7 linked regions of the Homo sapiens genome follow. The protein of the gene in region 1 interacts with the protein of each later gene in a biochemical or structural test. Each region holds a gene or a part of one and is shown on either strand. Other genes may lie near its edges. The genes, in order: ARHGEF12, SLCO1B1, CD46, CIB2, PLCB2, SH2D3C and ABCA1.

The links.
Region 2: the proteins of ARHGEF12 (region 1) and SLCO1B1 interact in a test that uses a peptide from one of them, tested with the Homo sapiens proteins (one large-scale study listed by IntAct).
Region 3: the proteins of ARHGEF12 (region 1) and CD46 interact in a test that uses a peptide from one of them, tested with the Homo sapiens proteins (one large-scale study listed by IntAct).
Region 4: the proteins of ARHGEF12 (region 1) and CIB2 interact in a test that uses a peptide from one of them, tested with the Homo sapiens proteins (one large-scale study listed by IntAct).
Region 5: the proteins of ARHGEF12 (region 1) and PLCB2 interact in a test that uses a peptide from one of them, tested with the Homo sapiens proteins (one large-scale study listed by IntAct).
Region 6: the proteins of ARHGEF12 (region 1) and SH2D3C interact in a test that uses a peptide from one of them, tested with the Homo sapiens proteins (one large-scale study listed by IntAct).
Region 7: the proteins of ARHGEF12 (region 1) and ABCA1 interact in a test that uses a peptide from one of them, tested with the Homo sapiens proteins (one large-scale study listed by IntAct).

Annotation. Positions count from the first base shown.
Region 1 is NC_000011.10:120,472,064-120,476,249, forward strand, and holds part of ARHGEF12 (rho guanine nucleotide exchange factor 12), read left to right. Parts: intron 1-986; coding exon 987-1,064; intron 1,065-2,496; coding exon 2,497-2,572; intron 2,573-3,276; coding exon 3,277-3,444; intron 3,445-4,186. UniProt on the Homo sapiens protein: May play a role in the regulation of RhoA GTPase by guanine nucleotide-binding alpha-12 (GNA12) and alpha-13 (GNA13). Acts as guanine nucleotide exchange factor (GEF) for RhoA GTPase and may act as GTPase-activating protein (GAP) for GNA12 and GNA13.
Region 2 is NC_000012.12:21,175,872-21,180,057, reverse strand, and holds part of SLCO1B1 (solute carrier organic anion transporter family member 1B1), read right to left. Parts: intron 3,283-4,186; coding exon 3,161-3,282; intron 1,483-3,160; coding exon 1,336-1,482; intron 1,137-1,335; coding exon 1,038-1,136; intron 1-1,037. UniProt on the Homo sapiens protein: Mediates the Na(+)-independent uptake of organic anions.
Region 3 is NC_000001.11:207,754,606-207,758,791, forward strand, and holds part of CD46 (membrane cofactor protein isoform 3 precursor), read left to right. Parts: intron 1-2,408; coding exon 2,409-2,597; intron 2,598-2,934; coding exon 2,935-3,037; intron 3,038-4,186. UniProt on the Homo sapiens protein: Acts as a cofactor for complement factor I, a serine protease which protects autologous cells against complement-mediated injury by cleaving C3b and C4b deposited on host tissue.
Region 4 is NC_000015.10:78,120,985-78,125,170, reverse strand, and holds part of CIB2 (calcium and integrin-binding family member 2), read left to right. Parts: intron 1-1,431; coding exon 1,432-1,466; intron 1,467-4,186. UniProt on the Homo sapiens protein: Calcium- and integrin-binding protein that plays a role in intracellular calcium homeostasis. Acts as an auxiliary subunit of the sensory mechanoelectrical transduction (MET) channel in hair cells.
Region 5 is NC_000015.10:40,297,607-40,301,792, reverse strand, and holds part of PLCB2 (1-phosphatidylinositol 4,5-bisphosphate phosphodiesterase beta-2), read left to right. Parts: intron 1-183; coding exon of another isoform or gene 184-201; exon of another isoform or gene 202-1,126; intron 1,127-2,318; coding exon of another isoform or gene 2,319-2,384; exon of another isoform or gene 2,385-2,547; intron 2,548-2,564; coding exon 2,565-2,665; intron 2,666-2,828; coding exon 2,829-2,995; intron 2,996-3,084; coding exon 3,085-3,231; intron 3,232-3,412; coding exon 3,413-3,570; intron 3,571-3,833; coding exon 3,834-3,916; intron 3,917-4,186. UniProt on the Homo sapiens protein: The production of the second messenger molecules diacylglycerol (DAG) and inositol 1,4,5-trisphosphate (IP3) is mediated by activated phosphatidylinositol-specific phospholipase C enzymes.
Region 6 is NC_000009.12:127,775,867-127,780,145, forward strand, and holds the start of SH2D3C (SH2 domain-containing protein 3C), read right to left. Parts: upstream 2,801-4,279; 5' UTR 2,762-2,800; coding exon 2,725-2,761; intron 2,066-2,724; exon of another isoform or gene 675-2,065; intron 1-674. UniProt on the Homo sapiens protein: Acts as an adapter protein that mediates cell signaling pathways involved in cellular functions such as cell adhesion and migration, tissue organization, and the regulation of the immune response.
Region 7 is NC_000009.12:104,784,764-104,788,949, reverse strand, and holds part of ABCA1 (phospholipid-transporting ATPase ABCA1), read left to right. Parts: exon of another isoform or gene 1-382; coding exon 383-524; exon of another isoform or gene 525-895; coding exon 896-1,030; exon of another isoform or gene 1,031-1,333; intron 1,334-1,973; coding exon 1,974-2,077; intron 2,078-2,559; coding exon 2,560-2,652; intron 2,653-3,310; coding exon 3,311-3,554; intron 3,555-4,186. UniProt on the Homo sapiens protein: Catalyzes the translocation of specific phospholipids from the cytoplasmic to the extracellular/lumenal leaflet of membrane coupled to the hydrolysis of ATP.

The sequences.
Region 1 (4,186 bases):
AATGAAATAACTCTCTATATGTGCTAATGTGGAACAGTCCCCAAGATATAAGTCATACACCACACACACACACACGTGGGGGAATACGTATATGAATGTATTCTACCATTTCAATGAGGAATACATATAGGAATACCAAAGGAATGCATATATGAATATATTATGCTACCATATCTTGTTTTAAAAAAGGACATATACACACAACATGCACAAAGACAAGCATACTTATATATACATATATAAATAAATACATATCTGTTTGCATAGAATTTTTCTCAAAGGCTACCCAAGAAATGGATATTAGTGATTGCTTCTTTAGGGAAAATTGAGGGGGGTGGGGCAATAGGACAAGGTTAGAGGGAGACTTTTTATTTTTTGCCTTATATAGCCATCTGAATTTTGTACTGTGTGCATGATTTACATATTCAGAAAATAAATATAAGCTAATAAGAGACCAATGACTTTGAAAAGAAGATTGAGAAAGAAAAGCCAAAGAGGCAGGAGGAAAACTAGGAGAGTATATTATCACCAAAGCCACGGGAAGAGAGTGAGTTTTCAGTCCTGTCTAGCATTGCAAAGAGCTCAGTAAAATGGAGATTTTTTTTTTTTGAGATGGAGTCTTGCTGTGTCGCCCAGGCTGGAGTGCAGTGGCGTGATCTCGGCTCACTGCAAGCTCCGCCTCCCAGGTTTGCACCATTCCCCTGCCTCAGCCTCCCAAGTAGCTGGGACCACAGGCGCCCGCCACCATGCCCGGCTAATTTTTTTTTATTTTTAGTAGAGACGGGGTTTCACTGTGTTAGCCAGGATGGTCTTGATCTCCTAACCTCGTGATCCACCTGCCTCAGCCTCCCAAAGTGCTGAGATTACAGGTGTGAGCCACCACGCCTGGCCAAAATGGAGATTTTAAATGCCAAGTTTGATTCAGAAATAGAGAGGTCATTAATGACCAAAGCACTAACCTTGGTTCCACCCTGCCTAATTTTCAGCGCCTAGAAGATTATCAGCGTCGCCTTGATACCTCCAGCCTGAAGTTGTCAGAGTACCCAAATGTTGAAGAGCTCAGGGTGAGAGATGGTCTAATCATAATTTAAAAAATAAAATAAAATTTGCTAAAGACCTGGCAGGTAATTAACATCTCAGTGGGAATATACGTCACCTGAAGGAGTTCTTGTATCGTAGATTATCTGTATTTATGATTTTTTTTGCTGCCTTTTAAATGCTTGATCTGTATGAAATTAGTTTTTCATTAGAGGAATATCTTGCATAAAACTGTAATATTACATGACAGCAATTGGCAGGAGACTAAGGGACACTAATTATTATAAAATTTAATTTTATTGTGTTCTGTAGTTTGTTTCAGACAGGGTCTTGCTCTGTTGCCCAGGCTGGAATGCAGTGGTGCAGTCTTGGCTCACTGAAGCCTTGGCCTCCTGGACTCAGGCAGTCCACCCACCTCAGCCTCCCTAGCAGCTAGGACTATAGGTATATGCCACCATACCCAGCTAATTCTGTGTTTTGTAAAGACAAGGTCTCGCTGTGTTGTCAGGTTGGTCCAGATTTCCTGGGCTCAAGTGCTCCTTTCTCAGCCTCCCACAGTGCAGGGATTACAGGCATGAGCCACTATGCCCAGCCTGTGTTCTGTAGTTTAAATAAGGGTAGGACTGTTTGGTAACTTTCCAGATCATTTAATAACACAAGATAGCATACTATTTTCTCATGAGGCTCTTCAGAAGCATAAAAGTTGGAACCATTACAGGAACGATAGTAAAATGTTTACTAATTGCCACTTCTAGTATGTGGGCTTATGTGTTAACTTTTTCGGATTTTAAGTGTTTTTGTACCATTTCACTAGGTGGTGGTTTTGGCAGATTTATTTGGTGGCTGTTAAAATAGACTTTTATGTCATATATTAATACTTCGTCAACAAGCACGTAAATGTGCTTATTCCCCTTAGCTTCCAAAGAATGAGAGTTTTCTAGAGCTGCTAATACTAAAAGATGATTCTCTTACTAATAAGTTGTTAATATTTAGACCAAGTCTGAGTAGTACCTGGACTTTTCATGAGTACTATTTCTTAGAACTTTCTTTGAAATTAGAGCCTTGGAACTCAGAAGCCACTTTCTTATAGACAAGCATATGTACCATGCTCATCCAGTTATTCATAGGAAAATTAAAGGATACGTTGAGAATCTAGTGACTGAATGTTTGTAACTTGATCTTCATAATCTGTTATCATCTGTTTAGAGTGAGGTTTGAAGATAGTACTCCTGAATGTTCTTCTGCAAGATACCTTTTCCTTTTTAGAAAATTGTATGCAGATTACTTTAATATGGCTTTTGTGCCATTTTCAAGAACTGACAAATAGCAATAATGATAGTTGAATGTAAATGGTGTATTTTATATTAAGAATTTCTTTAAAAGAGACTGTATTATATAGATAATCATGTTACTGAGTGCTTGGAAATTATTTGTGCATGATTTTCTTTATTTTGCCAGAATTTGGATTTAACAAAAAGGAAGATGATTCATGAAGGGCCATTGGTTTGGAAGGTGAATAGAGATAAAACTATTGGTAGGTCTGATATTGTCTTTTAGTTTTGGGGAGAGTGGCAAAAGGGAAGGAATAGGAAAGTTTCCTATGACAAAGGGAAGAGGAGAGAACCATTCTCTCAGCAGTTTGCAGTGCTACCTCGTGTTATTTGTACATTTGTAGATCTGCTTGTGTTATTTCATTATATGTAAGATGTGTTAAATATTCATTTAGGAATGTAGTGGAGAACTGATTTAGTCCTATTTCCATCATTCTTATAGTCTAGTGAGTCTTTGTATGCTTTGTAAGCTTTCTTTAGACCAGTACATCTTAAACTGTCTGTGATGAGGAACCGTTTTTGTTTTTTCAGAAACAAGGTCTTTCTATGTTGCCCAGGCTGGAGCACAGTGGCTAGTCACAGATGCAGTCATGGTGCACTGCTGCCTCGAACTCCTGGGCTTAAGGGATCCTCCTGCCTTAGCCTCCCTAGTAGCCGGGACTATAGGCGCACAGCACCACACCCAGCTTGTTGTTTTTTATTTCCTATTGGTCACAGACTGACACTTCAGTGAAATAAAATAAAAATGAATTACTGAAAATGAAATTTTAAAAGATAATATACAAGTCAATTTTTAAAATTTTGTAGCTTTAACAGAAATAGAATTCCTCTGTTGAATCATTATAAAGTTAATCAAACGCGTCTCCATTTCTGTACTTACCATTTTTTTCTGCACTTTTATTTCTAGATTTATACACGTTGCTGCTGGAAGACATTCTTGTATTGTTACAAAAGCAGGATGATAGACTGGTTTTAAGGTGTCATAGTAAGATTCTGGCATCTACAGCTGATAGCAAACACACGTTTAGCCCTGTCATTAAGTTGAGTACAGTGTTGGTTCGACAAGTGGCAACAGGCAAGTATGTCCACTGAAGGATACTAATTTCCAGATTCATTGTGAAGTTGCATAAGATACTCGGTGCTGTCTCAATAACACAAGTGGCATAGAGTCTTGCTATTTTTATATTCTTAAGCAAATTACATGAAATTTACTGCTTAGAAAGAGACCTAAGAGTTTATACCCCAAAGTTATTAGGGTGTCTCGATTCTGTGAACAGTTTTCTGCATTTGAAAATTTTTATGCTATTACTTTGGTTCTTTATGTTCAAATCATTGATAGATCCCAATGAAAAGCCTTTCATTTAGGGTGGTATGTTTTTTGATTTGGTGAGAAAAAAATCAAAAACCAAAGAGACGGATGTAGTGTTGATTAAAAATCAAATTTGACTGGCAAGTTATATTTTAACTCTATTAACAACGGGGTCCCTTTTAAAACTTGTTAGTTTCATGGTGGCAAAATAAATTTGTGACCTCTTTTCTCCACTACTCACTGAATATTATTAACTAACAACTTAGCAAAAGTGCAGTTCAAAATAAATGCAAAAGAGTAATAGCATTTAATCTGGTAATTTGGATTTATTTATTTTTTTTCTTTTGAGACGAGGGTCCCACCCTGTCACCCAGGCTGGAGTGCAGTGGTACAACCTTGGCACACTGCAACCTCCACATCCCAGGCTCAAGCAATTCTTCAACCTCAGCCTCCTGAGTAGCTGGGACTACAGGCATGCACCACCATGACCTGGCTAATTTTTTTGTTT
Region 2 (4,186 bases), on another chromosome or scaffold:
ACCCATTTACAAATCTATAGTAAAGTAGGTAGAAATTGATTGTGTTTCACTAATAACAGAAGCAGATTATACTGGATTTAGAAGTGGATGGGAGGTGAGAAGGTGAGATATCTTAGCTAATTTAGCTGATATTTTCCTAGGTGCTTGGTTCTAAAGAGGAATAAAAAAAGGATTCAGCTGGAAAGTTGTGTGGGGGTATAAAAAACTGTATCTACATATAAAGATGGGAAATACTTGGGTGTGTTTGCTGAATAAAAGAGAAGATGGAGATAAAGAAGCGGGAAGGGAGAATCTAAGCTCCAGCTAGATCTATCAACATTGGATACAGATGTATATATTTTCCACTGAGCTGCAAAAAAGAAAAAGAAGATAAAGATAGATATGGTGCAAGAATATTTTTAGGGAAAAGGGCCTGAAGTTGAGACAGTTTTTATAACATGGCATCTCTTTCATCTATGAGATAAGAAGGAAAGTATGCTCTGAGAATGAAGAAGAAAATCATAGATTTTATTTATGTGTCCTCTGCTTTATTCCTTTGTTCAACAAGTACTTACTGAACATTGCCATACGCCAAGCCCTCTGCTAGGACCAGGGAAAATGACCATAAAATACACAGTGAAGTCTCTCAAATGACTCCAGCCATAAATCAATGCAGCAGCCACAAGAAGACTTTAGCAAAGCAAACTTTAAGTTGTACACATCAACATCCAAGCCACCATCAACTGAAAAATAAAATTTACTTGACTGGACAGTCAGTTTGGGAGGGAGACATTTTACATTTGGTTATTTTGGACCAAGCTCATGAAAATAAATTTGTTTACATTCTCTCATTTTACACTTAGTTATAAAGATAGTATAAATAGGAGCTGGATTTTATATTTATTCTGATTAGTAATACATTTATTTCCTACTTGTAACTTTCTAATTATATTAAGCAAAGGACTATTGAAAGAGTGAATTCAGTTATTTGAAAAAATGTTTTTCGCATGTGTGCTTAGAAAGACGTTATCATGGTACCTTGTTCTGGTTGTACTTACTTAGATCTACATATCCAATATCCACGTACATTTTAGAAAACAGAGATCCCAGGGTAAAGCCAATGATTGGACCAATCATTGCTATTGCATTCAATATACCTGAAAATATTATAAAGCAATTTTACTAGATGCCAAGAATGCATGGTTCTTATTCACCATGTTTTTAAAAGAAATATGATACAATACATATACCCAAATATATGTTCTAATAGGTAAAATAATAAGTTTAGTAACTCTACTATTTCAAAAGTAGACAAAGGGAAAGTGATCATACAATTTAATATTTTGTGTACATTACCTAAATACAAAGAAGAATGTCCTTCTTTAGCGAAATCATCAATGTAAGAAAGCCCCAATGGTACTATGGGAGTCTCCCCTATTCCACGAAGCATATTACCCATGAACACATATATCCACATGTATGACCCAGATTCCTTTAAACAACCTATGTAGATAAGAGAGTGTTTCATTTTAAACATTAATTTTAGCATTTCTATTACAAATTTAACTACTTGTAAACTCTTAATTATTCTACTTATTTTTTTTTAATTTACAAGTACAAGTAATTTATATTCACTTTGCAAACTTTGACAATATGGTGTATTAGTCCATTCTTATGCTGCTAATAAATACATACCTGAGACTGGGTAATTTATAAAGGAAAAGGGTCTAATGGACTCATAGTTCCTCATGGCTGGGGGGCCTCACAATCATGGCGGAAGATGAAGGAAGAGCAAAGCCATGTCTTACATGGTGGCAGGCAAGAGAGCTTTTGCAGGGGAACTCTCATTTATAAAATCATCAGATCTTGTGAGACTTCTTCATTACCACGAGAACAGTATGGGGGAAACCGCCCCCAAAATTCAATTATCTCTACCTGGCCCCACTCTTGGCATGTGGAGATTATTACAATCAAGGTGATATTTGAGTGGGGACACAGTCAAGCCATATCATACAGAAAAGCACAAACAAGTAAAAATTATCTGTAATCACATTACACACAGAAGATCACCTCAAGCTTTTTTATATATCTTCTAGATTTGCACAAAACATATACATTATATTCATTATATCCATTATATATTTAAAAATCTAGTTCATATTGTTAAATGGTATACACAGTTAACACCATATTATAACAATTGTTCCATGTTGTTAAGATTTCTTTAATATCAAAACTTTAATGACTGGACAGTAATGTGCTGAATAAGTTTCCAAATGTGTTTATTCAGTATCTTATGTTTTAATTTCTTTTTTGTTGTTTTATTCTATTAGGTTTATCATGACTATAACTGTAAATAAGTCCTTTTGCAGTTTCCTGGTTATTTCCTTAAGATTAATCAATAATAGCAGAATTTCAGACTAAGTAGGTAAGTATATTTTTGTTCTTAACATATATTGATAATGAATCTCCAGAAAGATTTACAAACGTATACACTTCCAGCAATATATACAATGTGAAATCCTTTTTTGCCTCTACCTCGTCTCTATGTATTTTTAGTCTTTTTCTATTTAATAGGTTAAAAAAATCTTTAGCAGTACAATTTGCAATTATAATTTATAATTTGTGTTATAATAGGCAAAAAGTCTTTAAATGATATAATAGTTTGCCTTTTGCAATGAAAGCAAAGTTATATTATTTACATATTTATACCATTTCCTTCTGTTTTACTTTAATGCATATATTCTTTGTCAATTTCCTATTGAAAATATTCTCTTTTCTGATCTACTTCTAAATGCTTTTACATATAATACAGTCATCCCTTGGTATATTAAGGAATTTGTTACAGGGCTGCCTGTGTGTTCTCAAATTCATGCACACTTAAGTTCTGCAGTTGGCCCTGTTCAATCCAAATATAGAAAATGTCAGATATTCTTACCGGCAGGTTTATCATCCAGTTCAGATGGACAAAATTTGCATAGAAGTGAAAACGCGTAGTTTAAACCTGTGTTGTTAATGGGCGAACTGTGTATATTAACACTATAATTATGTCTGTAAGAGTCAAATGTTTTTCCTATTCATTCTTAATTAAATTTTGCTAATGAATATCACAACAATTTTTAGAGATGTAATTAAATGTATACATTTTAGAAGACTTTTTACTGTCAATATTAATTCTTACCTTTTCCCACTATCTCAGGTGATGCTCTATTGAGTGATAAAATTTGATTAATTAAACAAGTGGATAAGGTCGATGTTGAATTTTCTGATGAATTGATATTAGTTTCTTTAGAATACCTGTAACTGTAAGAACATCACTGAATTAAACATTTTGCTTATCTACTGAATATTTTCACTTTTCCTAGAAATACAGAGAAATATTCCCCTTTATTTGCACCATTATCTTCCCCAAATTACCAGAGTACTTTCTGTCAATTTCCCAGCATGTGTTTTAAGAGATGTGATGGGTAAAAGTGAAATGGAAGTGTCCAGCAAGAAAGATAATTCAATACACCCCAGGCTAAGTGGGTTATCACCTTGCTATTATCCTAGGAGTGGTTATATCTTGGTCAAGATATGAAATATCCTAGTTTCACCTTTTTAAAAAGTAATTATTAATTGTGTGTAACCATTCATCCTTTTGAATTATCTTCAAAGATGATCAGTCTGTCAGATTTTCTTTCATGGACACATATTCACACACACGCTCTAATGTATGACTCTTCAAAATGTAGTAAAAATAAAATCTAATCCATTTCAACTAGATGAGAGAAAACTTGATAGGAATAACAGAGATGTTAATATCCATAAATAATTAGGTACCACGTGAGCTCTAAAGGCAGCCTACTGTATTCCAGGCATTATGCTAAGCTTCAAAGAGCTAGAAATAAAACACACAGTTTTTGTACTTAGGGAATTTCACACTAGTATAAACATAGATGATAAAAGTTATAAGTTTAATATATAAGGTCCTGAGTTGTCACAAAGACAAAGGATATGATCAACTTTGCTTGGAGGTTGCGGGAATAGATCAGAGAAGACATCAACATGAGAATGACAGGTAAAACGAATCTGGAAGATGAATAGAAGGGTAGACAAAGAAACAAAGGTATTCAAGGCTGTAGAAATACCAGGTGCAAAAGTGTCACATATTATGGCATATTTAGAGCAATGCTGATCTAGATTGTGGTCCTTAATTTTAGGGTAG
Region 3 (4,186 bases), on another chromosome or scaffold:
CTAGGAAAAAGTTCCTCCTGCCTCCAAGAGGAAGGTTCTTTAAAGAGCTATGCTCAGGATGGTCTTTCTGCGGTACCTAAAAAGCTAGGGCAGTGGCAGCTGAGAGCCAGAAAGGATCTGTCTCCCCTATTTGTTGACTCTGCAGGGCTTCCAGTACTTCAGTCTTGCATCTCACTGATCATTAAAACGTTCATTTTGAAGGAGGGTAATGGGAGTAGGGAGTAGTGGTGATAAGAAGAAAACAAAAGGACTTTTTTTTTTTTCTTTTAAGATTAATGTTTAGAATAGGCTTAGTGCTAGAAGTTCAGCCTGGACAGCATAAGCAGACCTCACCTATACAAAACATGTAAAAAAAAAAAAAAAAAATTAGCCAGGTGTGATGTTGCATGCCTGTGGTCCTAGCTACTTGGGAGACTGAAGGGGGAGGATCACTGGAGCCCCTCATGGTCAAGGCTGCAGTGAGCCCTGATCATACTCCAGCTTGGATAACAGAGCAAGAGACCCTGTCTCAAAACAAAACAAAACACACACACATACACACACAAACAAACAAAAAAAGAAACAAAATAGGAAGCTGAAGAAGATAATGAAAGCGATTTGAAATAGAGGAACATAGAATTATGAAATGAATAGGGTGCAACATGGAAAATAACAAAACTAAGAATGAAGAGAAGGAAAAGCAAGGTTAAGTTTGAGGTTCATAAGGGTAAATCAAGACAGGTATGAAACCTAGAGAAAGTAAAAATGAGAAGTCACGATGCTAGGCAGAGAGAATACGTGAATTAAAATAAACATTCAATTTTTGGAGCAACTCACTCTCACAAGGAGAAGGTTTCGTAAGCAGACAGTGCTGTGCATGGGAGACCTGCCCTCTCAAAGGTAGTTGCCAAATGGTTCCAGATAGTTGAAGGAAACATGTATCAAATTTCAGGCCAGTCTCATTCCTCCAGAAGAGGAGCTGCTTTTTTGGACAAAACCCGCAATCTCCTGTTGTGCGTGGTCTCTTCTGCCTATTTTAGGTGTTTTCCTTATTTCCAGTGAAAGAAGCCAAGATCAGTAAGCACTTACACAGTAGCGTCTCAGTTTCCTTACTGGGCATACTACAATGCAAAGAGAGCAGTCCATATCTGGTCACCTGCCAGGATACCAGAAGACTGGGAGATAGGCAGCACAAGAAATGGCCTAATCTTCTTTCTCCATTGTGCTGTAGAATGATTATTTTCAATATGAAATTGATTACAATATATTCTTCACATTGTTTTGTGTTTGACAGCAGTGGATTTTGAATACCAAATTTTTTTTGAATAGCTACTCTGAGTGACATATTGTGCTGGGTGTTGTGGCCACATGGATGAATGGAGTTGGCCTTGTTAACTATTAAACACAAAAGCATGTGATAGTTACCTGAGAGATCCATGCAGGGGAGAGTCCAGGGGAAGGTGACTGATCACTGCTTCCCAGGGGGAGGCAGAAAATGCTTCCTGGAGGAGATGATGGGTGGATTAAGGAAGATGAGTTGAGCAGGAGTTGTAGCTACCAGCCAGGGAGGAAGGGTATTCAGAGCAGAGGAAGCAAGGTGAGCAAAGGCACCAAGATGTGACACTACTGGACTGCCAAGCTATTCAGTGTGGCAGAGTAGGGCAAAGGAGGCAAGAAAGAAGGAAGAGGATTAAATCACAGGGTGAGTAATTCTGAAAAGCAACAGACTCATCAGGAGTAAACACTCACCATCATAAATTCAGACTTTCACGTTATTACCTGTCCTTTTAGGGCAACTTGAGCCTTTTGTTTGACTTAGCACAACATGAATCCAAACTAGGGTTGTTTTGATTTTCCCAGGCACGGTAGCAGACAATTTCTTGAATACTTATTTGCAGATAGAGTTTGTCAGTGTCAGCATTTCTTGTGCACCCACAAGGTGAGTATAGTAGAAAAAGAAGAACATGGTTCTTGACCCCCAGGAACTTGCCTTTTAAGAGAAGACACCCTGAAGTGACAAGCTGTTATAAGTTAGTGTTTTAAACTATGGAAGAACAATCTGAGCAGAGTACTCTATACTGTAGAAGACTTCTTAGAGGAGAAGTTACTTTTGAAATGAATTTAGAAAAATGTGGGGAAAGATGCATCCATATATATTTTAAGATCAAAGACATTAATGCTGTCTCTTCAGTTTATTGTCGAATGTTTATTCCCAAACAAACCAAAAGCTAATAGGATGTTACTTAAAACATGCAAGTCCCATTTCCTCCACTGCTATGAGCACTCAGGTAAAAGCATGGAACAGTCATTTAAAATCTTGCCAAGGGCCTTTCTGTTTTTTCTGTACTACCTGCTGCCAGACCACAGTCCATGGCTGATGAAAGTGATATCAGTACTTCATCTTCATGTTCCTATTCTCTTATCCCTAGATGCCTGTGAGGAGCCACCAACATTTGAAGCTATGGAGCTCATTGGTAAACCAAAACCCTACTATGAGATTGGTGAACGAGTAGATTATAAGTGTAAAAAAGGATACTTCTATATACCTCCTCTTGCCACCCATACTATTTGTGATCGGAATCATACATGGCTACCTGTCTCAGATGACGCCTGTTATAGTAAGTAAACAAACCTCTTTTTTTTTTCTGCTTGCTCTAGAGATTTGCATACATTTTGGGGTACATATTCCACTACGGTGATGATGATTTTCTTCTTGTAAAATGAGGTTCAAGATAACAATGCATTTTTGCAAGCTTTGAGAAATCAAAATCTCCAAGAAATCATTTTCCTGGCAATAGATTGCCTGGGTGAATATGAATCTTAAGTTTGCCCTTATAATAAGTAAATAATGAAAATTATATTCCCACCCATTCAAAAGAGCACTGCAGAATTTTGATTTTGATTCAGATCTGTTTTATAACTGGATTGAAAACTATCAAAATTATTTTCTTTCAGGAGAAACATGTCCATATATACGGGATCCTTTAAATGGCCAAGCAGTCCCTGCAAATGGGACTTACGAGTTTGGTTATCAGATGCACTTTATTTGTAATGAGGGGTAAGTTGCTCCTTAGAGGAAATAAGGGAAGTGTTAGTAATTTTATTTTTGTTTTGCTTCTCTTCTTAAGCATTCCTGTAAACTTAATTTTGCTTTCTATGTGACAAGTTATACTTCTAGCCAAACAACTCTTGGATGTTTTATGGAGATAGGCAAGATATATAGTAAATAGAAAGTAATTGATATTTAAGGAAAGCAAAACTACTTGCTGTTTCTGACAATAAGTCTGTTGTAAGCATTAAGAATGTAGTAATCATGAGAATTTGTCCTTCACAACTGAGTGTCCCCTATTTAAATCTGCCAACTCTTAGAGTTGAAGTAGGGCTCACAAAAATGAGAAATAGAATTGCCAACTAAAGATACACTTGTATCCAGATGACTCTGTAAAGTGTTATCAGACCAAAACTGACGCGGTTAGCCTTTACCATCATGTTGATCAAAATCTCTCAGTTGAAAAACCTTATTTTTGAGACTGCTACAGTGTGAAGCATCTCAAGAGCAGGTACTGAGCCCTCGGTAATAGCCTTTGTTCTGTAGGGTTTTGAAGTTGTATATATTGGAGATACTAGACATTTAAGATAAATGTGCATTTATAGAGTAAATGTAAGTATTCTGCTATAACAGAATACTTGAGGCTAGGCATTTATAAAGAAAAGAAATGTATTTGGCTCATATTTCTGGAGGCTGGAGAGTTCAAGGGGATGGCAGTAGTGTCTGGCAAGGGCTTTTGTGCTGCATCATAACATGCTGGAAAGTGAAAGGGAAATTTAGCATGTGCAAAAAAGACAAAGCACAAGGGAGGGGGTTCTCGCTTTATAACAACGTGCTCTTATGGTAATGAATCCAAGCCTACAAGAATGAGAACTCATTCCCTGAAGAATTAATGAAGACCCTCTAGAAAGGCATTATACCTCTTAATGACCTAGTCATTTCTTAAAGGCCCCACCACCTCTCAATGCTGTTACACTGGCAATTAAATTTCAATATGAGTTTTGGTAGAGACAAACCAGATTCAAACAATAGCAGTAACACACCATAATATAGAAAAAGTAAGTGAGTCTTGGAGGAAAAATCAGCTGTGACTATGTAAGGCAACTGACAGTTTTTAAAATTTGGTCAAGTAGAAATATTGGAATATTCAGTTGACAC
Region 4 (4,186 bases), on another chromosome or scaffold:
TTGGGTGAGGAGCAGGGGGCACTGCTTCCCCAGCCTGAGCCTTTCTGGGCTCCTACAGAGGAACCACTGTCAAAAGCAAAGCTGAGACCCCCAGGAGAACCCCTCGTGTTTCCAAGAAGCCAGCATGGATCCTTAGTCTAACTCCCAGGGAGCAGCAGCTTAGAAGGACAGACTTGTTGGGCCAAATGGGGCCTGGAAATTCCCACCAGCTCTCCCCTTTTCAGCTCTCCCGAAGGCACCCAGTGGAAACCCCAGATGTTGTGTGCATCCTGCAGGCGTCCTCTCTTTGGGCCTCTTAACACGCAATCCAATTGCCCTGATGTCCAGCGGCTTCAGGTCTCATTCAGGGCAAGCCTGGCTGTTTGCAGGCCTGAGTTTCAGCCATTCACTCCTCATCAGAGCTGGCTCTGGTCAGCTTATGGCCCCAGGAGGCCCTATGGGCTCTGGGCTCTGCAGACCTAGGAGGCCTTCTTGCTTCATGCTGTAACAGTGGACAAAGGCGGAGGAGCTAAACAGCAGGGGAGGTGCACAAAAGCCCTTTACGGTTGGGCATTTTACAAAGTGCTGGGTCCTCTTCACCTCTATACTTTTCACCAAGGGCTGGCATAGTGGCCATTGTCACTGACTCCCAGTGGTTGATACTCACCTTGGGCAGGCCAAGCTGTGGATAGAGGCAGTTCATCTAAACAAAGACAGGACCCCTCCGAGATGAGTTTGTCATCTGGATGGCCCTAGGAGCCAAGTGCTGCCCCCCACCTGGAGTAATGCTTACCTGGGGATCCCCAGCAGCCCCTACCCTCACCTCTACCCCAGATGCTACCTGGTTCCCCCTGCCCACGTTTCTCCCTCCCATATCTCCCTGGCCTCTTCACTCCCTTCTCTGGGTGACCTCATCCCTTTCTGGCTTCAGACACCAAGTATATACTGATGCTTCCCCAGTCTATGTGCCTGGAACTCTCAGTCTCTGAGCCTGGGACTGCACAACCCCCCTAGCACCATGCTCAGGGCTACAGTGAGGATGGCACCCCATGCAGCTACACGAGGTGGCCCTGTGGGTCCTCATTCGGAGTTGTCTCCCAGCCACCTCCCTGTCATCCCCCAGTGTATCCCACTGGCACTCAAATCAGCCACGCATACCTGTGAGCATTCATCTTCCTCCTACATGTGTACCCTAAAGCATGCTACAGCCCCCCACCATGCACTAAGCTCCTTAGGCCTAGCCCAGGATGGATAAAGGTTTTGGGAGGCATTTTCTATACCTACTAGAGCCAGCTGTCCCCAGTGGGTGAGGGCAAGGTGGAAAGGGATAGTAGTGACTCTTCTGTCCCCAGTCCGGAGCTATCCCCTGTGAGCCCTGTGGCATCGAGGCCTCTGAGGAAGAAAGTCTGGGAGCCGCACACTGACTGTGTGTTGTGTGTTTTCCCTCAACAGGACTGCACCTTCTTCAATAAGAAGGACATCCTCAAGTAAGTGTGGCTTCTCGTTCACCCTGTTGGGACTGGGACTGGGGCCGGGGTGAGGCTGGGGCACCCCACATGGGCTGGCTGTGCTCCTGGGGCTGAGGCAGAGCATCAGCATGTATCAGGAGCCACATTCAGGTCCCCACTCGGCCACTGGGCTAGGATGGAGTTAGAGCTTCCCACTCCTCCCAGGGCCCAGATCCTCCTGCTGGGGAATGAACATCTACTTACTATGAGCTTTCAGGTGGGTAGTTTCCGGCACATTCTTATTTAATCCTCATTGTGACCTTGTAACAAGAGAATCCATTTATCCCCATTTGACAGATGGAGCTTAGCAACTTGGCTAAAGTCACAGAGCCAGGGACTCAAGACCCAGCCTCTGACTCCAGGTCCCTTGCTATTTCACTGCATCCTGGGTCCTGGTATAGCAGGGAGTCCCTGTCTGTTAGACCAGGGGTCCCTAAGGGCCCTTTGGCTCTAGCTTTGATGTTCTTCCACTCCTAGGACGTCTAAAAGTTGAGGGCATGGCCACCACCCCTGAGCTATTCATCAGGGCTCTGCTTCTTCCCAGGACAGCCCTTCTCCTTGGTGTTGATGGGGGTGGGGGTGGACCTGGATGGGAAAGATAAAGGGGATCGGCAGCCTCAGAACCCCAGGACCAGTGGGTGAGCAGGAATCACTGAATACCAAGAAAACTGCCCCACGGGCCTCACTAGGCCCCTCTGCCTGGGTGGCACTAAAAGCCAGCAAAGTCCCAGGATCACTTGCCCTGGAGATCGATGGTCAGGCTGGGACCAGAGCCCATTGCAGCTTCCCAAGAGAGCTGTGCTGCAGCTTGTCACTGCCCTAACCATTCTGCTCATTCAGGCAGTGCCTCTCGGCTTTCCTCTCTACCCAGGCTGCTATTCCAACCTGTCACCTGCATGGGCAGGGGATACCCCACTTCCACCACCTTAGAGAGTCTGAGCAAGGGGCAAAGCCTCCAGGCCTGGCATCAGTAGACCTGGCATCTGTGGCCTTGGGCAACCATTTGACCTTCCCTGAGCCTCAGTTTTCTTCTGTATAATAGGGATAGTGAAACCTACCCTCATAGCATTGCCGAGAGGCAGCAACACTGGGGTATAGTGTTTGATAAGTGGGATTTGCCCTGTAGCTTGAGAGATGTCAGGGGTGAGGTCCCCATTTCGACAGGATGGCTCTCGGTATTGGAATAACAAAGCTGTCACCCCTGGCATTCTTGTGGCACCTTTTACCTTTCAGAGTTCTTGGCATGGAGCCTCATTTGAGCCTCACAGGGAGCTTCGGGTTCCCTACCTTTGTAGATGCCAAGCCCAAGCTGCCTGTCTTCTGAGGCCCACGGCCATTTTCATTCTGGCAACAAAAGCCCCTTGCCTCGGCCTTTGCACTGGCTATCTCCACTCCCTGGAGTGTCCTTCGCCTCTCCTCTGCCCACAGCATTGCTATGCATCCTTCCAGACCCAACTCCAGAATCATCTCCTTTATAAGCACCCCCAACACCCTGCCACCCTAGTGCTATCCCAGCTGCTCTAACAGCCTGTTAGGGGCTCCTTGGGTTCCTGGACCCAGGGGCCCAGCTCCCCACCAGACTTGTGATCAGGCAGGACTAACAGGGAGCATGGCACCTGTTAGCCACCAGTGACCATATGAAGAGTGTGTGGGTGAAAGACAGGTAGGATTGGCTGAGGGAGAACATTCCAGGCTGGGGAGCAGCAGAGGTGAGACACAGGCCAGCTTCTCCTGCTCCCACTCCCACCCCCATCCTCCCGTGGTCTCATTGACAGCAGCAAGATTGCCTGTGTGGGGAAGAGGAGAGAGGAGCTTGAAGGCCAGTCCGGGAATCCGATCCAATATGATGGGCCTTTGGTGGTTGTTTTAGTCCATTCTCATGCTGCTATAAAGAACTGCCTGAGACTGGGTAATTTATAAAGGAAAGAGGTTTAATTGATTCATGGCTCCACATGGCTGGGGAGGCCTCAGGAAACTTACAATCATGGCAGAAGGGGAGGCAAACACATCCTTCCTCACATGGCGGCAGGAAAGAGAAGTGCTGGGCAAAGGGGGAGAAGCCCCTTATAAAACCATCAGATCTCGTGAGAACTCACTATCATGAGAACAGCCTCGGGGTAACTGCCCCCATGATTCAATTACCTCCCACCAGGTCCCTCCCATGACACGTAGGGATTATGGGAACTACAATTCAAGATGAGATTTGGGTAGGGACACAGCCAAACCATATCAGGGGTATCCCTGGCCCCTTGGAAAATGAGGGGCTCCAGGCAGGTGAGAGGGCTTGAGGAGAGGCGTCCTGGCTCCCCACAGCCCTGGCCTGCACCCCTCTGCACGCATCAGGACCCTAGGCTCTGTAATTCAACACCAGAGCAAAACCCAAGCCTGAGGCCCCGTCTGCAGCATGGGGATGACATTGCTTGCAGGAGCTGTTTTCTCACAGGCCCCTGTGTCTGGGAGGGCTGGGTGATGGTGTTATTAAACATGAAAAGAGCTACCTGGAGTTTGCTGCCCACCTGTCCACCCTCAGGGAAGGGTAGTTAAGACAAGACAGATTCGGGATTGCCTGTCCCTAGAGGGAACAGGCATGGCCATGATGGCTCAATTCCAGTTTCACCCCCCTTCGCTTTTCTCCAGCCTTCTCTGTGGAGAGGCCAGCATGACTGACTGCCCCTCCAGGAGAGCCCTCTCCACTGTTC
Region 5 (4,186 bases), on another chromosome or scaffold:
AGGGGTGGAGCCAGGGCAAGGGAGTGAGACCCTGAGCTCCAAGCAGGTTTGTCTGTATCCCCTACCCTGGGTGGTGGGGGCGCTGGGGCTGTGGTTGATGGACTGTGTTCAGGGCAGGCAGCAGAAACGGCATGCATTCCCAGTCTAGTGTTGGGAATGGGAGCTGAGCGTGAATGTTTTCAGCCTGGAGGAGCGAGATAAGGTCGGCAGTGGCAGGCGGCAGTCTGCAGGGATCTGGAAGTCTGCAGCGTGTCGAGGGAGAGGAACTGAACCAAAGGCGGAAGCTGCCAAGATGCAGACTTCTGCTCTGTACAGAAAAGCATTTTTCCCTGTCTTTTTAGTTAAATAATTAATTTTTAATTACAAGTTGTAAGCAGGGTCACCCCATGAAGCAACTTGTGTGAATTACAAAAAGGAGCCCTCTGGGCTGATATGGCCCTGAGCTAGGCTTCAAGCCTGGCCAATGGAGCGAATCTCAGCCCCTGTCCCTGCTTGGCCAGTGCTCTTGTGTGGGTCCCAGCCTATACCCCATGGAGTATTTTCTCCTGGTAAGAATTTGGAACGTTATAAATAAATAAAACCACGACCCCCATTGATCACCTGCCCACATGAATCCCAGGAGGAGCATTTACCCCACAGCCACAGCTCTGCAGAGTTGGTGACTCCTTGATGCAGTCAGTCACAGGGATCCAAATGTGGCGTTGGGGAGAGGTAGGAATGGGCTCCTGCGGCTCCCCTACAGCCAGCAACACTTACCTGTGGTCAGCACACATCCACCCTCCCTCTCTCCTGCTGCCTGAGCTCCTCCCTTGGCTAAGTCCTCCTTATCTATCTGCTTTCCTTGTGTCTCAGTAGAGGCTACTGACCCAACTTTGCTTGGAGCTGAAGCTCCAGAGACAGGGAGGGGTTTGGGGAGATCCAGTTAGACTCTCCTGCTCAGACCCTCTGCTCCAAACTAAGACTGATGTTGGCCTTCCAGTGTGATTCTGAAAGACATTTAATGTTTTTTTTGGGGGGGGAAGGAATGCAAAGGTGCAGAATCCCTGAATACCACAAATGTACTTTTCATTTCTATTTCTATAGATTTGCCTATTCTGGTGGTAAAGTAAATGAAATCATAAATATATGCTTTTCGATGTCAGGCTGTATTCATTTCTCATAATGTTTTCAAGGTTTATCCATGTTGTAGCATGCATGAGTACTTCATTCCTTTTTACCACCTAATAATATTCCATTGTATGGATATACCACATTTTGTTCATCTGTTTATCAGTTGGTAGATGTTTGGGTTTTTTGTACTTTTTGGTTATGAATATTCATGTACATGATTTTGTGTGAACATGTGTAAATTCTCTTGGGTATATACCCAGGGGTGGAATTGTTGGGTCATGTGGTCACTCTATATTTAACAATTTGAGAAACCGCCAAACTGTTTTCTAAAGTGAGAGCATTGTGTAGGGATTTATTTATTTATTTTTGAGACAGAGTCTCACTCTGTTGCCCGGGCTGGAGTGCAGTGGCGTGATCTCAGTTCACTGCAACCTCTGCCTCCCAGGTTCAAGCAATTCTCCTGCCTCAGCCTCCCAAGTAGCTGGGATTACAAGCATGTGCCACCATGCTGGGCTAATTTTTGTATTTTTAGTAGAGATGGGGTTTCACCATGTTGGCCAGGCTGGTCTCGAACTCCTGACCTCAGGTGATCCACCCTCCTCGGCCTCCCAAAGTGCTGTGTGGGGTTTTAGGTTAGTCACATCCCGCTGACACTTGTGATTGTCTGTTTTTTGTTTTAGCCATCCTAGTGGGAGTGGTATCTCATTGTGGTTTTGATTTGCATGTCTCTAACTACAAATTATATTGAGCACCTTTTCTGTGTTTATTAGTCACTTATATATCTTCTTTGGAGAAATACCTGTCCAAATCCATTGTCCATCTTTCAACTGGGTTGTCTTTTTGTTGACTTATCTCTTATCGGATATCTGATTTGCAAATATTTTATCCCATTCTGTGGGTTACCTTTTCACTTTCTTGATGGTGTCCTTTGAAGCACAAAAGTTTTTAATTTTGATGACGTTTAATTTATCTTTCTTTGTCCCGGTGCTTTTGGTGTCTCCAAATATTATTGTTGAATTGTCCTCCTTTCAATTCTATCAGTTTTTGTTTTATATATTATGGGGTTCTGTTGTTAGGTGCATATATGTTTATATTCAAATTGCTTCTTTTTGAATATTTGTCCTCCACTTAAAAAAGATAGCCTACTAGCCTGGCAAGCAGCATCATTTCTTCTGACCTCTTTTCTACCTCATTCTGGTTATTCTTAGTTCCGATCCTGCCCCAGCCAATGGAATAGCCACTGTACAAAATCAGGGTCAGAGCAAACCAGCTAAGCATGCTCTCTGCTCAGCAACCAGGGCCTTGAGAAGTGGATGCTTGGGTGTCCTTGAAGTTCTTCTGTCTGCCTTGAGCCCGCCTTCTGACCAGGTCCCCTTGACCAGGGCTGGGCCGAGTTTGTGGTTCTTAGCTCTGAGAAGGTGAGGGCAGGGGCAATAAGGTTACTATGCCCCTAGAATGACGCCATCAATCCTGAGGACTTCCCAGAACCTGTCTACAAGAGTTTCCTCATGAGCCTCTGTCCTCGGCCAGAAATAGATGAGATCTTCACTTCTTAGTGAGTTTCTTGGGTTGTGCTGGTCATGGGAAAAGGGTGGTGGCTAACAATCCCCTCCTCCCACCTGCCATGCCGGGAGTCAGGAGGCTTCACTGGACAAGGGGGTTGTCTAAGCCTCCAGGCCCAAGGGATATGGACCTGTGCTCTTCTCTCTGGCTTGAAGCCATGCTAAGGCCAAACCCTACATGACGAAGGAGCACCTGACCAAATTCATCAACCAGAAACAGCGGGACTCCCGGCTTAACTCCCTGCTGTTCCCGCCAGCACGGCCTGACCAGGTGCAGGGCCTCATCGACAAGTATGAGCCCAGTGGCATCAATGCACAGAGGGGTGAGGACTAAGGGAACCCCTTGTCCCCTGTGGTCCTGTCCTGCCTTGGCAGCGGGGTTGTAGCCTGACAGCTATCTCCTGTCCCCCAGGCCAGCTGTCACCTGAAGGCATGGTCTGGTTTCTCTGTGGGCCAGAGAACAGCGTGCTGGCCCAGGACAAGCTGCTGCTCCACCACGACATGACGCAGCCACTCAATCATTACTTCATCAACTCGTCCCACAACACCTACCTGACAGGTGGGCCCTGATAACATTGGTGCCAACCTCTGCTTTCACAGGGGTTCCCTGCATCCTCCACAGGGGTTGCCCACATGCTGCTGGCCCTGAGAATAACACAGACCATGATGGAGTGGCGGTAGGGGGAGAGCTGGGCTGCCTTTGGGTGATGCCCTCACCTCTTCCCCATCCTCTGGCTCAGCCGGCCAGTTCTCAGGCCTCTCCTCGGCTGAGATGTACCGCCAGGTGCTGCTCTCTGGCTGCCGTTGCGTGGAGCTAGACTGCTGGAAGGGGAAACCCCCTGACGAGGAGCCCATTATCACCCATGGCTTCACCATGACCACAGACATCTTCTTCAAAGTGAGACCCTGGGCACAGAGGCTGGTGGCCGTGGCAGTAGGGAAGGGCTCTGGGCCAGAAGCTTTGAGGGGTTGGAGGGCTGAAGCTAGAGAAGATGAATGGCTGGAAGGCCTCAGACCATTGGGGACCAGCAGGGATTGGGGGCCAATGGCGGCCATGCAGTTATATGTGTGTATTGAAACTAGGCAGGGGGGAAAAGTGCTATCACGAGACAGGCAGTCGGAACGCTGACCTTCTGTTCATGGAGTCTCCTTCTCCTCCAGGAAGCAATTGAGGCTATTGCAGAAAGCGCCTTTAAGACCTCCCCCTATCCCATCATCCTGTCGTTTGAGAACCATGTGGACTCGTGCGTATCCAGGCCCATTCAGCCACATTCTCACCCAGCCCCCAGTCTCCTGTCTGCAACTGTCCTCCCCACAACTGCCCCAGCCTCTAACCATTGCCTACAGCTTCTCCCACGTCTCAGTATAATCACCCTAAGGCCTCATGTTCTCCTGCTCGAGTCCCAGCCTCCCTGACCTCCTGGCCCCTGATCTGGGTCATCAAGGGCACAAAAGGATGCATAATAGGGTTGGTGCTGAGCGGCTGAACCCCATCCCCGCTTTTGCTCCCCGCA
Region 6 (4,279 bases), on another chromosome or scaffold:
CACCCAGGCTGGAGTGCAGTGGTGCAATCCTGGCTCACTGCAACCTCCACCTTCTGGGTTCAAGCGATTCTCCTGCCTCAGCCTCCCGAGTAACTGGGATTACAGGCACGTGCCACCACGCCCAACTGGTTTTTGTATTTTTAGTACAGACAGGGTTTCACCATGTTGGCCAGGCTAGTCTCAAACTCCTGACCTCAAGGGATCCACCCACCTCGGCCTCCCAAAGTGTTGGGATTACAGGGGTAAGACACCGTGCCTGGCCACTAATAATAATAATTTAAAAATTTCTGAAAATGATTCTGCATCTGCCAAATGTGCTGCATGAATTCTCAGCATAACTCAGTGACACAGTTTAATCCCCATTTTCCAGATGCGAAAATTGAGATTCAGAGCAGTGTAATGAACCGAGCTCACACCGCTGGTAGGTGGAGCAGGTGTGCGTGTTTTGTGCTCATGTAGGGGGTTGGGGAGTGTTCCAGCCAGCCTCTGTGCACCTGGGGTGGGGGTGGAATGAGGAGGGGGTTGTTGTGAGCCTGAGGGTCGCACTGTCTGTGGTTCTCTCCTTCCTGTCAGCTGAGCCCAGCTCCAGACTCAAGAGGAACGGCTGGGGTGATACCATCTCCTGGTTTCTGCGGGGGTGTATGTGAGTTCCCTCCCCCTGCCCCCAGCTGTGGGACTGTCCCTTCTCACAGCCACCACCAACTGACTTCCCCACAGCCTCCAGATGAGCAAAAAGGTAAAACTCCGGCATTTTCCACATCCTCAGCATCCTCCACCTCCTCAGCTGTTCGCACCCGTGCTGGGATGCAGGTAGGATGCCCCCAGTTGACAAGGGAGGAAACTGAGGCCCAGCAATGGGGAGGGACTCCCCCAGGGTCACACAGCAAGGCCATGGCTGAGCCTGGACACAGGCCCAGGGCTCAGCACAGCTGGGTCAGTGCTCAGGGGTTTGCTTCCCAGCCCTGCCGGCCCTATTTGGTTATTGCCTTGGTCTCCTGAGAAACGTGTCGGCAAATGTGGCCGCTCTGCTGCATGCGGTGGGGGTGGAAATTGAATCAGTGGCCAGAGGGAGGACCCCCAACTGCCTTCTTTCTCAGCACCACTGGTTTTGCCTCCTGGGCACCAGACGTTTGGAGGAGATAGTGGGGGCTGGGAGGGAAACTGAGGCCCAGAGTCCAGGGTCTGGGATTGGGCCCTGCTCAATAGCCCGTGTGACCTCAAGCAAGTCTCTGGGCCTCAGCGTTGCCATCTGGGAAATGCAGTCATAATCGCCTCAGCATTGCCATCTGGGAAATGCAGTCACAATCACTGCCCTTTACGCCACATGTCCCCCACCCTGGTGGGGTCAGATCAAAGGAATCAGGAGACAGAAAAAGTTTGCTGGGACTGGGAAGGACAGACACAGGAAAACAGAGCAGTGGGCAAGTGTGGCCCCTCACCGTGGAGCCTGATTCTAGTACCTCTGTGCTCTTTCCCCACCCAAGTATTGGGTCCCAGCCTCACTGCTGTTGGGAATGTGAGACAGCATCCCATGACACCCCCATCCCCCTGCCGCCCCAGTAACTCCCCACCTGGGATCCCATGATGCCCCCATCCCCCTGCCGCCCCAGTAACTCCCCACCTGGGATCCCATGATGCCCCCATCCCCCTGCTGCCCCAGTAACTCCCCACCTGGGATCCCATGACGCCCCCATCCCTCTGCTGCCCCAGTAACTCCCCACCTGAGATCCCATGTGAGCCCAGGCCTGCGGGCAGGGGATGGAGTGTGCGAATGCCTCCCCTGCCCGGCCGCAAGGTCAGAGACAGCCAGAGACACAGTGGACTGCAGAGATCGAGAGACGCGGTGGGGAGACAAAGAGACGGATAAAGAGAAGCACAGAGATGGAGAACGAAGTCAGTCAGAGAGACAGAGATGCTGGGCCAGAGTGACAGCCAGAAAGCCACGGGATGCCCAGAAGCAGAGACGTCTGCAGAGAGACAGTGATGGACAAAGAGAAACAGAAACAAGGCGGGAAACAGGAGGATCGCTTGAGCCCAGGAGATCGAGACCAGCCTGGGCAACAAAGTGAGAACCCACCCCGGTCTCTAAAAAAAAAAAAAAATCAGTTTTATTTTACTTTATTTATTTACTTATTTTTTGAGATGCAGTCTCGCTGTGTCGCCCAGACTGGAGTGCAGTGGTGCAATCTCTGCTCACTGCTATCTCCACCTCCTGGGTTCAAGCGTTTCTTCTGCCTCAGCCTCCTGAGTAGCTGGGATTACAGGTGCGTGTCACCATACCCAGCTAATTTTTTGTATTTTTAGTAGAGAGGGGTTTCACCATGTTGGCCAGGCTGGTCTCGAACTCCTGACCTCAGGTGATCCACCAGCCTCGGCCTCCCAAAGTGCTGGGATTACAGGCGTGAGCCACCACTGCACCTGGCCAAAAAAAAAAAAAAAGATTTAATTGTGCCTGGAGTCCTAGCTACTTGCCTAGCTTCTTAGGAGGCTGAGGTGGGAGGATCACTTGAGCCTGGGAAGTCAAGGCTGCAGTGAGCCGAGATTGTGCCACTGCACTCCAGCCTGGGTGACAGAGACGCTGGTGTCCAAAAGCAAAAAACAAAAAAAGAAAAAGAGTGAGAGAGAGAAAAACAGAAATGAGACAGTGATGAAGAAACAGATGCAGAGAGAGGCCCAGAGGAGAGCCAGGGATGGAGGACAGTGCAGACGGCACCCCACACTCACTGAACTTTTTGCTGGTCTTCTTGGTCCCCTCTGTCATCTTGGCAAATTGTGTGAAGCCCTTGGCCAGCTTGCGAGTGGCCACTCAAGGCTCGGGACATCAAAGTTGAGGTGCCTCTCCCACCTCCCCTTCCCCTTTCTCTTACTCGCTTCCTCTGTGTATTTTTAAACCAGTGAAACTCCCACAGCTCCACCCTCCCCACCCTCTCCGCAGGGGGCGGGGGCTGGGGCCTCTCCTAGCCCCAGCCCCTGTGGGCCGCCTCCTTGGCCTCAGCAGCAGGGGCAGGGGCCAGACCGCAAGCCCCTGGGACCTGGAAGGTCTAAGGAGCAGGCCGCAGGCTCTGGGAACGGAGCCCAGTGGGCTGGGGGCCGCTGGGGACCTGCCAACAGCTGTCAGGGGGCCTGGCCATCAGGCTGGGAAGGTGAGGGGAGTCAGGCCTGTGTGCAGGGCAGTTGCTTCTCAGCCTCTGTACCCAGGAGAGGGACTGGCAGCTGCAGATGGGAGAGTGCTGTGGTCAGGCCTGTGGACTCTGGGCCCCCCAGACCCAAGTTCCACTCTTGGCTGGCCATTTCGCCACGGTGTGACGTCCTCCCTGTGAACCGGGGGTACTCGCAGTGCCCACTTCATCGGGTTCAGCCATGGGTGTAGGGCCTGGCACAGAATCGGTGCCTACCAAAGCACAGTCACCACTTTCCAAGCTATCAGGGAGATGTCATCATGTGTTCCACTGTACTCACTGGACAGAGATGATGAAACCGAGGCACAGAGAGGCAGAGGGATTTCCCCAGGTAACACAGCTGGTTGCTGGCCCAGACTGGGCCACAACTCTCCCTTCTAGGCCCCTTAACCCACGGGCTGGTGCCTTTCCACCCTACAAACTTGCCATGTGTGCATGCTCAGGTGGGCAGACCGAGATGAGGAAATGCAACCTCCCCTCCACGGGTCATCCTGGACATCTGCAAAGGGTGTCAGCAGCTGCTGGGGCTGGGGGCGGGGCCCAAGACCCAGGGCTGCCAATCCCAGCTACTTCCACCTCCCAAGCCTCAGTCACCTGATTTCTAGAATGGGGAGAAGTGGGAGGTATGCAGCCAACCTGCCAACCAGTGGGGGTTCAACATTTTATCCTGGACCCCAGGCTGGCAACCCAGGCTGTGAGAGGAGTCCACTGCCATCTGATAGGGCACTTCCTGCATCCTCCATTAACAGTAACAGCCCCAGGGTGGGCGCGGTGGCTCACACCTGTAATCCCAGCATCTTGGGAGGCCGAGGTGGGTGGATCACCTGAGGTCAGGGGTTTGAGCACAGCCTGGCCAACATAGTGAAACCTCGTCTCTACTAAAAATACATTTTAAAAAATTAGCCGGGTGTGGTGGTGTGCAACTGCATTCCCAGCTACTCGGGAGGCTGAGGCAGGAGAATTGAACCAGGGAGGCGGAGGTTGCAGTGAGCCGAGATCGCGCCACTGCACTCCAGCCTGGCGAAAGAGGGAGACCCTATCTCAAAAAAAAAAAAAAAAAAGCAGAGGCAGACACTGGACAGACTGACAACCAAGTGTCC
Region 7 (4,186 bases), on another chromosome or scaffold:
TGGTGCATGTGAATGGTGCATATGAGTGAAGTCTAGGATGGGGCCTTAGCGTTAAAGCCCTGGGGTAGTGTGACTGAGATTGTTGGTAAAGAATGTGCAGTGGTTGGCATGACCTCAGAAATTCTGAAATGGGACTGCACCTGCAGACTGAAGTGTTCAGAGAGCCAGGGAGGTGCAAGGACTGGGGAGGGTAGAGGCAGGAACCCTGCCTGCCAGGAAGAGCTAGCATCCTGGGGGCAGAAAGGCTGTGCTTTCAAGTAGCAGCAGATGTATTGGTATCTTTGTAATGGAGAAGCATACTTTACAGGAACATTAGGCCAGATTGTCTAACCAGAGTATCTCTACCTGCTTAAAATCTAAGTAGTTTTCTTGTCCTTTGCAGTATCTTATCAAACATCCATGAAGTACATCAGAACATGGGCTACTGCCCTCAGTTTGATGCCATCACAGAGCTGTTGACTGGGAGAGAACACGTGGAGTTCTTTGCCCTTTTGAGAGGAGTCCCAGAGAAAGAAGTTGGCAAGGTACTGTGGGCACCTGAAAGCCAGCCTGTCTCCTTTGGCATCCTGACAATATATACCTTATGGCTTTTCCACACGCATTGACTTCAGGCTGTTTTTCCTCATGAATGCAGCAGCACAAAATGCTGGTTCTTTGTATCTGCTTTCAGGGTGGAAACCTGTAACGGTGGTGGGGCAGGGCTGGGTGGGCAGAGAGGGAGTGCTGCTCCCACCACACGAGTCCCTTCTCCCTGCTTTGGCTCCTCACCAGTTGTCAGGTTATGATTATAGAATCTAGTCCTACTCAGTGAAAGAACTTTCATACATGTATGTGTAGGACAGCATGATAAAATTCCCAAGCCAGACCAAAGTCAAGGTGCTTTTTATCACTGTAGGTTGGTGAGTGGGCGATTCGGAAACTGGGCCTCGTGAAGTATGGAGAAAAATATGCTGGTAACTATAGTGGAGGCAACAAACGCAAGCTCTCTACAGCCATGGCTTTGATCGGCGGGCCTCCTGTGGTGTTTCTGGTGAGTATAACTGTGGATGGAAAACTGTTGTTCTGGCCTGAGTGGAAAACATGACTGTTCAAAAGTCCTATATGTCCAGGGCTGTTGTATGATTGGCTTGTCTTCCCCCAGGGACAGCAGAGCAACCTTGGAAAAGCAGAGGGAAGCTTCTCCCTTGGCACACACTGGGGTGGCTGTACCATGCCTGCAGATGCTCCCAAATAGAGGCACTCCAAGCACTTTGTTTCTTAGCGTGATTGAGGCTGGATATGTGATTTGATCTTTCTCTGGAACATTCTTTCTAATCATCTTTGTGTTCATTCCCTGAAAATGAAGAGTGTGGACACAGCTTTAAAATCCCCAAGGTAGCAACTAGGTCATAGTTCCTTACACACGGATAGATGAAAAACAGATCAGACTGGGAAGTGGCCCTTGACCTTTTTTCTTCTGTAGATAAGAGCATTGATGTTATTACGGGAAGAAGCCTTTGAGGCTTTTATGTATTCCACCTCGGTCTGGAATTTGTTTCTGTAAGGCTAACAGTTGCAATATACTAGGGTAATCTGAGTGAGCTGGAATTAAAAAAAAAAAGGAATTTCACCCCAATCTTATACTGACTTCAATAGAGGTTTCAGACAAAAAGTTGTTTTGTATATACTTATCAGTCATGAAAAGATAATTACAACTAAATGGCCTTTTTCCTTCCCTATTTATTTGGAGAAATTTAATTACATAAAAAAGTACTCAGAATATTTGAGTTTCCTGCATCAATAAGACATTTATAATAATGACCTTGTTTACAAATGAATTTGAAAGTTACTCTAATTCTTTGATTCATCAAGAAATAACTAGAATGGCAAGTTAAAATTTAAGCTGTTTCAAAGATGCTTCTGCATTTAAAAACAAATTTATCTTTGATTTTTTTTCCCCCCAGCAAATAAGACTTATTTTATTCTAATTACAGGATGAACCCACCACAGGCATGGATCCCAAAGCCCGGCGGTTCTTGTGGAATTGTGCCCTAAGTGTTGTCAAGGAGGGGAGATCAGTAGTGCTTACATCTCATAGGTCCGTAGTAAAGTCTTGGGTTCCTCACTGTGGGATGTTTTAACTTTCCAAGTAGAATATGCGATCATTTTGTAAAAATTAGAAAATACAGAAAAGCAAAGAGTAAAACAATTATTACCTGAAATTATATATGCATATTCTTACAAAAATGCAAGCCCAGTATAAATACTGCTCTTTTTCACTTAATATATTGTAAACATTATTCCAAGTCAGTGCATTTAGGTGTCATTTCTTATAGCTGGATAGTATTCCATTAGGATATACTCTTATTTAACTATTCCCCCTTTTGTAGACATTTGGATTATTTCCAACTTGTTCACAATTGTAAACACCACTACACTGAACAGCATCATCCCTATATCCACATGTACTTGTAACAGAATACAATTCCCTAGGAAGCTGGAATGCTGGAAGTCATGGTGATGTTCTCATGGTTACAGAGAATCTCTCTAAAACTAAAACCTCTTTCTGTTTTACCGCAGTATGGAAGAATGTGAAGCTCTTTGCACTAGGATGGCAATCATGGTCAATGGAAGGTTCAGGTGCCTTGGCAGTGTCCAGCATCTAAAAAATAGGTAATAAAGATAATTTCTTTGGGATAGTGCCTAGTGAGAAGGCTTGATATTTATTCTTTTGTGAGTATATAAATGGTGCCTCTAACATAAAGGGAAATAAAACTGAGCAAAACAGTATAGTGGAAAGAATGAGGGCTTTGAAGTCCGAACTGCATTCAAATTCTGTCTTTACCATTTACTGGTTCTGTGACTCTTGGGCAAGTGACTTAACTACTGTAAGAGTTAGTTTCCCTGGAAGATCTACCTCCTAGCTTTGTGCTATAGATGAAATGAAAAAAATTTACATGTGCCAGTACTGGTGAGAGCGCAAGCTTTGGAGTCAAACACAAATGGGTTTGCATCCTGGCCCTACCAATTATGAGCTCTGAGCCATGGGCAAGTGACTAACTCCCTGGGCCTCAGTTTCTCTGTAACATCTGTCAGACTTCATGGGTCCAGGTGAGGATTAAAGGAGATCATGTATTTACAGCACATGGCATGGTGCTTCACATAAAATAAGTATTTAGTAAATGATAACTGGTTCCTTCTCTCAGAAACTTATTTCTGGGCCTGCCAGGGGCCGCCCTTTTTCATGGCACAAGTTGGGTTCCCAGGGTTCAGTATTCTTTTAAATAGTTTTCTGGAGATCCTCCATTTGGGTATTTTTTCCTGCTTTCAGGTTTGGAGATGGTTATACAATAGTTGTACGAATAGCAGGGTCCAACCCGGACCTGAAGCCTGTCCAGGATTTCTTTGGACTTGCATTTCCTGGAAGTGTTCTAAAAGAGAAACACCGGAACATGCTACAATACCAGCTTCCATCTTCATTATCTTCTCTGGCCAGGATATTCAGCATCCTCTCCCAGAGCAAAAAGCGACTCCACATAGAAGACTACTCTGTTTCTCAGACAACACTTGACCAAGTAAGCTTTGAGTGTCAAAACAGATTTACTTCTCAGGGTGTGGATTCCTGCCCCGACACTCCCGCCCATAGGTCCAAGAGCAGTTTGTATCTTGAATTGGTGCTTGAATTCCTGATCTACTATTCCTAGCTATGCTTTTTACTAAACCTCTCTGAACCTGAAAAGGGAGATGATGCCTATGTACTCTATAGGATTATTGTGAGAATTTACTGTAATAATAACCATAAAAACTACCATTTAGTGAGCACCTACCATGGGCCAGGCATTTTACTTGGTGCCTAATCCTATTTAAATTAGATAAAAAAGTACCAAATAGGTCCTGACACTTAAGAAGTACTCAGTAAATATTTTCTTCCCTCTTCCCTTTAATCAAGACCGTATGTGCCAAAGTAAATGGATGACTGAGCAGTTGGTGATGTAGGGGTGGGGGGCGATATAGAAAGTCAGTTTTTGGCCGGGCGTGGTGGCTCATGCCTGTAATCCCAGCACTTTGGGAGGCTGAGGAGCAGGCAGATCATGAGGTCAGGAGATCCAGATAATCCTGGCCAACAGGGTGAAACCCCGTCTCTACTAAAAATACAAAAATTAGCTGGGCATGGTGGTGCGCACTTGTAGTCCCAGCTACTTGCGAG